Linked DNA regions of Homo sapiens: region 1 is linked to region 2. Evidence: fine-mapped expression QTL. A gene starts in region 2. The other region holds a variant in brackets. All regions are shown on one strand. Distances are between the middles of the regions. Region 1 overlaps KLHL22 (kelch like family member 22). Region 2 holds the start of MED15 (mediator complex subunit 15).

Region 1 (5,373 bases), 52 kb after region 2:
AAAAAAAAAAAAAAAAAAAAAAGAGCCATTGGACAGCCCAGGTGGACAGTTAGGTGGAAACACAGGAGGCTCCTGGCCATTCCTTCCATGCTGTGTGGTGGGGAGCACCTGTGCTCAGGTGTGTAACAGCCTGTGGGCCTGGCTGTAGATCGGTGTGCACTGGTATGTGGGGTAGTTGGGGAGGGTTCAGGCTGGGCTGAGGCAAAGCAGAAATGGGACCAGAACAAGAGGTGCAAGCCTGCGGAGCAGCCTCCCTGCCTAGTCAGTGCTGTGCTTTCCTCATGTCTCGGCACAGGTATGACCCACGGCACAACCGCTGGTTCCAGATCCAGTCCCTGCAGCAGGAGCACGCCGACCTGTCCGTGTGTGTTGTAGGCAGGTACATCTACGCTGTGGCGGGCCGTGACTACCACAATGACCTGAATGCTGTGGAGCGCTACGACCCTGCCACCAACTCCTGGGCATACGTGGCCCCACTCAAGAGGGAGGTAAGGAAGCCCTCGAAGAGGGGCCTTCTCCTGCCTAATTTCCTTCCCCAGGATGTGCAAAGAGTGAGAGGCCTAGGTGTCAAGGCCTGTCCCAGGTCAGAGAAACAGGCTCAGTGAGCAGAATCCATGCTTCTCCAGAGACCCTGCATTGAATGCATTGATGAGGCCCCATGAGGTTCAGCCAGTCCACCTGGGGAGGCTCATCAAGGATCCAGACCCCATTGCTCAGAATTGTGCCCCACTTGTGAGTCTTACATGCTGAGACCTTGTCACACCACCTTGGCCCTGGCAAGCTGCTTAAACCTTGTAGTTCAAATGTGGATAGAACATTTGCTCTTTGTGCAGCTGAGACGAGCTGGGACACTTCCAGAGATGTTAAACAGGAAGGGACCCTGAGAGCTCACTGGCCTATCCTCAGACCTCTTCCCTCTAGGTCCCCTGAAGGGTGGCGCCTTCCAGAGCCAAGAAACACTCTAAGGTTTTATTTTTTATATTAAATCCTATGTTTGAATATTGGGACAACTTGAAAAAAAAATCACGTGCATCCTATATAATACCTTGGTTTATTCCAATTTGAAGATGTTTAAAATTATGTTCATTATGGAAAAATGATGTTTTAGGGAGGTGCCTCTCTTTTATCTTACGACTTTGGGGTACTCAGGCCTGGTGTAACAACCAGACATGGGATCCCAGGGAAGGAACAGGCCTTGCTGGCCCCCTACTTCCTGGGTCTCAGCCTCCGAGAACAGGGCATACCCTAGCAGTACTAGGGGTACCCTAGCAGGGCACCCCGCTAGTACTGGCATAGCATTTGTGGAGCACCTGCTATGGGCCAGGTACACCTTTGGGGATAACCGAGCACCTGAGAGGCAGAGGATGGTATGGGGGGCAGGTTCTACCTGCACTGCCTCAGGGAGTTTAGCAAGAGCTCTGGCCTTTGTAAGCCTCTTTCCAGTATCTCTCATGACCCCCAATTCCCCCAGGGACTTAGACTTTGACTTCAGGGGTCAGGGCTAGTGTCTCCTCAATGGATCCAGCTCTTCTTTATCCAGGTCATTCACACAGCCCACACAGATTTCTGTCTCTTGGGCAGCTGTGAGCTGCAAGCTGTGGCCTGCTCCTTGCTCTCAGCTTCTTTGGGGAGAAGGAAGCCTCTTTGGAAGGACACTCCGTACCCCCATCCTGGGGAAAGGAGCAGATTTTGCATGGAGAAGATCAGGAGGTCCTTGAGACCAAGTGGACAAGGAGGGCTCTTGGGTTCTGTTCCAGGAAGGGTGTTGGGGGAAGCCTCCTAGGTGGGTGTTGTGGGAGGGGCTTAGCAGTTTCTTTGTCTGCGGCAGCTGGGGAAGCAGCAGTTCTCCAGCTTGGCCACAGAGGGGCAGCCTTGGCTTTCAACCAGCTGCATCGTGGCTGCCGGTGTTCCTTCATGCACGCATTCATTCCGCAACTACTAAGCACCATGTACCAAGTCCTGGGAATCCAGTGGTGACAAGAAATGAGAAAGACTCCCCACTCCATGGTGTTTACAGCCTTGTAGGAGAAACCACTCTTAACCAGAAAACAGATCAGTAAAGTGGTTACAATTATGGTAAGTGAAATGAAGAGGGGGCTGAACTGGAGGATTTCCAGGGAGGGGGCTCTGGTAGGATGAATCTAGAGGGACTTTTTGGGGAATGTCCATCTGAGGAGATGTCAATTAGACCTGCCATTTACAGAGGGAGGAAATGTTACTGGGAATGTGTCCTCGGTTCTTGTCTTCTTGGTTAAGACTTTAAGCAAGAGACATGCATTAACGAAGATAAGTGTAAGGCAGTTTATTGCAAAAGTGAAGGTACATTCTGAAGGCCGAGTCAGAGCAGGCTGCTCCAGAATAAGATCGCCCCAACTGGCATGGGAAACCTCCCTTACAGGAGGCTTACATGATTATTCATAAATGGGCGGGAAGAGGTGTTACTCATAAGCATGTTTTGTTTGGGTGGTCTTCTAGCAGCGCATGCACTGTGGCTCTACGTGCTAGTGTATTTATCGCATGTCTCATTAGCATCTTAAATCTTCACCCAGGAGGTGTGTTTTTTACCACTGCAGTGAACAAAAGGTTACTTTCGAAGCAAGCAAAACTGGGGCAAACTATACAACACAGGCTCCCGGGGGTGGAAAGTTCCTTGTGGGGTTAGTTCCTACTTGAGCTGGATAAGCTTAACTGAAAGAGGGGTTGGGACTTTTGAAACCCCAGGTGTGGTTAACATGTCTCAGAGGTCATAGTCCCTCTGGCCATGCTAGGGGCTGAGGCCAACCTGGAGTCCACTTCCCTGCTCATATCTAACCATCTGCCTAGTCTAGCAGAAGGACCTTCCAGGGCAGGAGAGGGGCTCACAGCTTTTCCTGAGCAGGAGAGGAAGCATGGGGCATGCTTGTAGAAGAAGGAAGCCCAAGGATCAAGAGCAGAGCAAGCGAGGCTGGCCCTGGGTCATTGCGTGGTCTGGGCTGAAGACAGCAGTAGCCTGTGCTGGCACACAGCTGTGGAGCTGGAGGGAGATGGGAGGGTTCAGAGTGTAGCGTGGAGGTAAACTGATCAGGCTTGCTGATGGATCAGATGTTGGGGAATGAAAAAGGATAGGTCATGTTGGCAGGGCGC[G/A]GTGGCTCACGTCTGTAATCCCAGCACTTTGGGAGGCCCAGGCGGGGGGGATCACCTGAGGTCAGGAGTTCAAGACCAGCCTGGCCAACATGGTAAAACCCCATCTCTACTAAAAATACAAAAATTAGCTGAGCATGGTGGCAGGCGCCTATAGTCCCAGCTACTCAGGAGGCTGAGGCAGGAGAATGGCGTGAACCCGGGAGGCAGAGGTTGTAGTGAGCTGAGATCACACCACTGCATTCCAGCCTGGGCAACAGAGCAAGACTCTGCCAAGACTCCGTCTCAAAACAAACAAACAAAAAACCTCACAGGATTGGTACACTGAATATTACAAAAAGCCGATGAAAGAAATAAAAGAAGATGTGAATAGATGGAGAGACATACCAAGTCCATGGATTGGAAGAGTAAGAATAGTAAGAATGTCAGTTCTTTCCCAACCCAATTAATAATACATATATTAATACAGAATTCCTCATATTGATATAGTATTAATACAGGAATACTAGTATTCCTATCAAAATTTCAGGAAGGTTTTTTGTACTATTAAGGGAAAATGAAAATTGAAGCTGAGGTTTGGATATACCCCTAGGCCAACTGCCTGTAGCCATGTAACTGAAACTTAAGCTTTCCTCCCTCAGTGTGATAGCTTTACAAAGAAAGCTTATGCAGCTCCACATGCACAGTAGGGAACAATATTCTTCCTCATTCATGCTTTATAAACTGTGTTGTAACTGCTGTGAATTGGGGCTTCATACCACTTCCAGTTTGGGGTTTCCTGGTTCATGAACTCTTCTTTTACATGCACAATAAGCTTTTTAAAAATTTTTTTATTTTTATTTTTTTTGAGACAGAGTCTCGCTCTGTCACCCAGGCTGGAGTGCAGTGGCATGACCCCGGCTCACTGCAACCTCTGCCTCCCTGGTTCAAGTGATCCTCCTGCCTCAGCCTCCCAAGTAGCTGGGATTACAGGTGAGCACCACCATGCCCAGCTAATATTTATATTTTTAGTATCATGAAGGTTTCACCATATTGCCCAGGCTGTTCTTGAACCCCTGGTCTCAAGGGATCTGTCTGCCTCGGCCAAAGTGCAGGGATTAGAGAAGTGAGCCATCACATCCAGCCTAAAATTTTTTTTTATTGCTGGTCGCAGTGGCTCACGTCTGTAATCCCAGCACTTTGGGAGGCCGAGGATGGTGTATCGCTTGAGGTCAGGAGTTCAAGACCAGCCTGGCCAACATGGTGAAACCCCATCTCTACTAAAAATACAAATATTAGCTGGGTGTGGTGGCACACACCTGTAATCCCAGCTACTGGGGAGGCTGAGGCACAAGAATGGATTGAACCCAGGAGGCAGAGGTTGCAATGAGCCGAGATTGCGCCACTGCACTCCAGCCTGGGCGACAGAGTGAGACTGTCTCAAAAAATAATAATAAAATAAATTTCAAAATAAATAAAATAAATTTTTTAATTTTGATTTGATTTTACTTGTGACATTAGATGTAAATGAGATTATTCTGAAATGTATATATAAAGGCAAAGGAACTAGAATAGCTCAAATAATTTTGAAAAAGAACGATAAGATGGGAGGAGTCTGCCCAATTTCAAGATTACTACATAGCTACAGTAATCAAGGCTGTGGTATGGATACAGTGATAGACACATAGATCAGTGAAACAGAATGGAAAACCCACAGACCTGAGTAAATATGCCCAGTCATGTTACACATGATTTTGGACAAAGGTGCAGAAACAATTGAGTGGAGGAAAGATATCTTTCAGCAAATAGTACTGGAGCAATTAGACATGCGTCGGCAAAAAAATGGATATCAACCCAAGTCTCATACCATATACCAAAATGAATTCAAAATGGTTTATGGAGTTAAATGTAAAACCATAAAACTTCTAGAAAAAAAGAAGAAGAAAATCTTTTTTTTTTGAGACCATTGATTTTTAATATTTTCTTAAAAAAATACAAAAGAAATTAACTCTGTAGTACAGGTCAGTACACTTCAGGGAAAGAGGGAAAAATGGAATTTCAGAGCAAAGGTTGTTTAGGTTATCACATTCCCACACTCCCAATACCCATAAAACAAGAATTTCACTCCATGACACAGAGGAACATTGAATGATAGCTCAGAAATGTTGATAGCTGAGGTACTGAAACTAACAAAAGGATTTTGGTTGTCCTTGATTATTCTGTCCTGTAATGAATAAAATCTACACTAAAGGACAGGTAAGGAAAACTTATAGC
Region 2 (5,352 bases):
GTGGAACCTACTTGGACCTCTGACCTACAGAAACTACCAAATGATAAATGTGTGTTTTTTGTTTGTTTGTTTTTGAGATGGAGTCTCGCTCTGTCACTAGGCGGGATAGCAGTGGTGCGATCTCGGCTCACTGCAACCTCCGCCTCCCGGGTTCAAGCAATTCTCCTGCCTCAGACTCTTGAGTAGCTGGGACTACAGGTGTGCGCCATCACACCCAGCTAATTTTTGGATTTTTAGTAGAGATAGGGTTTCACCGTGTTGGCCAGGATGGGTCTCAGTCTCTTGACCTCGTGATCCGCCTGCCTCAGTCTCCCAAAGTGCTGGGATTACAGGCGTGAGCCACCACACCTGGCTAAAGGTGTGTTGTTTTAAGATGCTAAACTTGTGGTAATTTGTTAGAGCGGCAACAGAAAAACACACAAACAGCAATATCGAAAAAAATAAAGAACTCAATTCTCCCGGAAGCAAAATAAAGCTGAGTTATGAAGTATCCAGTCACTCAACACCCATAAACTCTTCAATCACCCTCCCAGCCCTCTTAACACTTCCCCTACCCCCATTTTCTTTGATGACAACTCACCCTTCCAGTTCTTAATTCTGGGCTTTCCCAGAGAAGAACCCTTGCCCTGGGGACTTTTCTTGCAGGAACCCTGAAGTGGGATATCTCTCAAGTTTTCACCTACAGATAACTATATTTTATCAGTAAAACACTGTTCACTGATTGTGCAATATCCCCAGAAATATCCCAAGGCTATTCTTCCCAAAGCCCATAGCTACTAACTCTACAGTCCCTACTCTTTCCACTGTACTGAAAGGTTTCCCAGCATTCAGCCCGGCTTCCTTCCTTCCACAATGCTTCACCCCACACCCCACCCCCCTCCATCCAGTTAGTCATCAAGAATTGTCTACGTTCCCCCTCCTCTGGAATCTGTCTTCCTCTTTCAGTTTCTACCACTGTCTAATGCAGGCCTTTATAATCTCCCGCCCGACTAGGTCATGCCACAATCATTTTACGGAGCAATGTGGCAGGCAGTGAGCTAGCAGTGAGAATATAAGGATGAAAAAGGACAGGTTCCCTACTCCCTCCAAATGTTCAAACTCTCTTAATAGCTTAACTGGTCTCTCTTCTCTGCCCTGCATCCATCTCCAGGGACAGGGACTCTAGGCATATTCCCAACACTGGCATTTCACTACTCCAAAGAATGCCACATGCCAAACACAGGCTCAATTCCTTGGCACAACACCCCCACTAAAGTGCTAGTACCTGCTCACCCTCATTCCATCATCTCCTGGGCTCTCTTACTCCTCGAGCCCCAGAACTCTCAGCCTACAAGATCCTCCCTCCACGCAGTAAATGCTCATGTTTCCTAACTCCTCAGCTTGGAATGGTGGCTATTCACACTCCTACTTGTCTTTCTAGGACTCAATTTATTCGTCACCTACTCACTAGACTGCCCCTGGTCTGCTCAAGTTAACCGCCGCTTCGCAAGAAACCCCTGCAGTATACACATTACAGACTGACAAGACTGCGCTGTGACGGTTCCTTTACCATCCCTCAGGAAAGGGGCTGTGTCTCAGGCAAATCTGTGGCGAGCACAACACGCCAATAAGCTCAGTTAAAAACTGTCAGGCCTCTGAGCCCAGGCCAGGCCATCGCATCCCCTGTGACTTGCACGTATACATCCAGATGGCCTGAAGTAACTGAAGATCCACAAAAGAAGTAAAAACAGCCGTAACTGATGACATTCCACCATTGTGATTTGTTCCTGCCCCACCCTAACTGATCAATGTACTTTGTAATCTCCCCCACCCTTAAGAAGGTTCTTTGTAATTCTCCCCACCCTTGAGAATGTACTTTGTGAGATCCATCCCTGCCCACCAGAGAACAATTGACTAATTTTCCATTACCTTCCCAAATCCTATAAAACGACCCCACCCCTATCTCCCTTCGCTGACTCTCTTTTCGGACTCAGCCCACCTGCACCCAGGTGAAATAAACAGCTTTATTGCTCACACAAAGCCTGTTTGGTGGTCTCTTCACACGGACGCGCATGAAAAAAACTGCTAACAGAAACAAGCAGTCGGTGGTGAGGGGCTAGAGTTCCTCTGAGCGGGGCCACTGACCCCAGCTCTTCACGCTCTCCTCCAGAAACGACGATCGCTTCCTGACAGCGGCTTCCTGCCATCCTTCGGCAAAGTCCACATTCCTTCGGGGGGTCACCCTCAGATCCTCCGTCCCACCGCCCACACCCCAAACAACTACCTTCCCAATCTCATCTTACATCCACCCTCCTCCCATCACTTTCTTTCACCGTTGATGCGCTTTTCTGGAAGAGAAACCATGAAGCACCCAGCCCTGCTAAACCCACTACAGCCGGCTGCTTCTCTCCCTTTCCCTATTCAGTGTGGTTCAAAAAGCGGGGGAAAGTCTGCACCCAAAGCACACAAATGACGAATGAGAAAGCTCAAGACGATGATTCATAAGCCAGGGCTCGTTGGTTTGCAGAGCTCGGCCCCAGGAAAGCAAACGAGCAGTCCATGTCGGGAACGGAGGGGACAGACGGGGGGGCCCGAGCCCTGGGACCCACGCAAGTCCCCGGCGCCTTCTGTCTCCCGGCGCCGTAGGTTTCTCACGGGTCCGGCCCTGGCCTCGCCCGCCACGCTAAGGAGGAAGGTCCCACAATCCAGCCCCCTGCCCCGACCACTACTCACATTTGACTGACCAGCTTCTGCCGGAAGGCGGTGCTCCGCCAGTCGGTCTCTTGCCCGGAAACGTCCATGCCTGTTCCCCAGCTCCCGCCGCCCGTATCCCGCTTGGCCGCCACCGCCGCCGCCTCAGTCACAGAGCCAGGCCCAAACCCGGAAGCCGTCCGCAGTGCCTCGGCCGAGCCGGAAGTGAAGGAGGGCTTGTGGGAAATGGAGTCTCGCGCACAGGCTTGTGGGAAATGAAGTTCCCCGCCGGGGACGAAGCGGTCTCGGTTCCGCCCGGCTGGGAGACACACGCCCCTCTTCCAGTGCAGCTGTCGGACACGGCAGGTGCTCCCGCAGCAGACCTGCGCCTGACCGCCTGCATTTTCTGCAACTCTTCAGTGTGCTGGCCTTATCTAGTCCCTGAGATCCAGACCCCTCCGGGATGCCAGGCCAAGCTGCCAGCTATCTATAGTAATGCTAGGGAGAGAGTGTTTATTTATCAAATATGTGTGGGTACCTACTGTGTGCCAGTGCAACGTGATCTGGGATCTGCTTTCATGCAACTGCCTGCTAGCGCCGCATCCGAAGAGCGACCAGATGGACTCTCATCACCGCTTCACTCTTCGATTTTTTGAATCTCACATCTCACAATGGCTGTATTTGGGGGTTGGGAATGTGAGGCCCCTAAACCACGTTAATTAATTTTTAGACATGGGCTTTCCCTTTTGACCAGCAGCCACGTCCCCTTCATGGAGAACTCAGCCTAGCTAGTTGCTGGAGGCCAGATGTCAAACGAATTTGATAGGTGAAGGTGAGCGAGCTGAAGGTGGGATGAGGGGTTATGGGGGCCTGAGAATGCTTTTAGGAATGTAAAAGTTCTGCCTCCTTGGAACTATGGGGCCTTTATCTGCTACCCTGGGGAGGGAGGTGACGTGAGGAAAATCTGGAGCCCAAGTGGTCAATAAGCACCAGGTGGACACCAACCAACATGGGCCTCAGGAGACTGTGGACTGGCACCTACTGAAGCCTAAGTGCCAGGCCCCTGCTAGGCACTGTACACCCCTTACACCCCTTGTTACTGTGCCCCAGACAGGAGGTTGAAGGTGGTAGAGAGTGGGTGGGAGAGGAGTGAGCACTCTCCCCAAAGAGGCCTCTCTTGCCAACAGAGTTTCATGTCTTGTGTTGATGTGAGAGCTGTTCATGTTTTCAAACGTTTTCTGCTCTAATACTCCCAAAATCGTTATTGTTTTTTTTGAGGGGGGGGGGATAGAATTTAGCCCTTGTTGGCCAGGCTGGAGTGCAGTGGTGCCATCTCGGCTCACTGCAACCTCTGTCTCCCGGGTTCACGCAATTCTCCCACCTCAGCTTCCCCAGTAGCTGGGATTACAAGCGTACCCCACCATGCCTGGCTAATTTTTGTATTTTTAGTAGAGACAGGGTTTCACCACGTTGGCCAGGCTGGTCTCGAACTCCTGACCTCAGGTGATCCACCTACCTCGGCCTCCCAAAGTGCTGGGATTACAGGCATGAGCCACCGTGCCCGGTGGCAAAACTAATTTTTTTTTTTTGAGATGGAGTCTCGCCCTGTTGCCCAGACTGGAGTGCTGTGGTGACATCTCGGCTCACTGCAACCTCTGCCTCCCGGGTTCAAGTGATTCTCCTGCCTCAGCCTCCCAAGTAGCTGGGATTACAGGTGCCTGCTACGAAGCCCAGCTAATTTTTTGTATCCTTAGTAGAGACAGGGTTTCACCATCTTGGCCAGGCTGAAAACTAATTTTTAAAAACTCTATCTAGAGTGATCATCTTGACCGGGGTTGCCCAGGACATCCAAGGTTTTAGTGTTTTTTTCCTTGTTTTATTTTGTTGTTGTTGTTTGTTTGTTTGTTTTTTGAGATGGAGTCTTGCTCTGTTGCCCAGGCTGGAGTGCAGTGGCACAATCTTGGCTCACTGCAAGCTCCGCCTCCCGGGTTCACGCCATTCTCCTGCCTCAGCCTCCCAAGTAGCTGGGACTACAGGCGCCCGCCACCACGCCCAGCTAATTTTTTTGTATTTTTAGTAGAGACAGGGTTTCACCGTGTTAGCCAGGATGGTCTCGATCTCCTGACCTCATGATCCGCCTGCCTCGGCCTCCCAAATTGCTGGGATTACAGGCGTGAGCCACCGCGCCCGGCCCTTGGTTTTTTTTTTTTTTTTTTTTTTTTTTTTTTTGAGACAGAGTCTCACTCTGTCGCCCAAGCTGGAGTGCAGTGGCGCAATCTCAGCTCACTGCATCCTCCGCCTCTCAGGTTCAAGTGATTCTCCTGCCTCAGCCTCCTGAGTAGCTGGGACTACAAGCACCTGGCACCACATCTGGCTAATTTTTGTATTTTTGGTGGAGACAGGGTTTCACCATGTTGGCCAGGATGTTCTCAATCTCCTGACCTGGCGATCCACCCGCCTTGGCCTCCCAAAGTGTTGGGATTACAGGCGTGAGCCACCACGCCCAGCCTTGTTTTCTTTTTTTTTGAGACAGAGTCTCGCTAGGTCTGCCAGGCTTGAGTGCAGTGGCGTGATCGCTTACTGCAGTCCCCGCCATCCGGGGTTCAAGTGATTCTCGTGCCTCAGCCTCCCCAGTAGCTGGGACTACAGTGCGCCACCACGCCCGACTCATTTTTGTATTTT

The links.
Region 1: its variant is fine-mapped to the expression of MED15 in whole blood (TOPMed, PIP 0.98).

Annotation. Positions count from the first base shown.
Region 1 is chr22:20,452,923-20,458,295 of GRCh38, reverse strand. KLHL22 (kelch like family member 22) reads left to right here. Exons shown (of 7, transcript NM_032775.4): 5 at 296-488. It also overlaps the pseudogene KLHL12P1. Among named protein-coding and RNA genes, the nearest start is that of SCARF2, 18 kb to the right of the region's middle. RefSeq lists enhancers at 1,531-2,032, 2,781-2,950. The variant G/A (reference allele first, on the strand shown) is at 3,124.
Region 2 is chr22:20,505,107-20,510,458 of GRCh38, reverse strand. It overlaps MED15 (mediator complex subunit 15), which reads right to left and starts at 2,849. Exons shown (of 18, transcript NM_001003891.3): 1 at 2,713-2,849. The coding sequence starts at 2,780. RefSeq lists enhancers at 2,757-2,866, 4,746-5,245.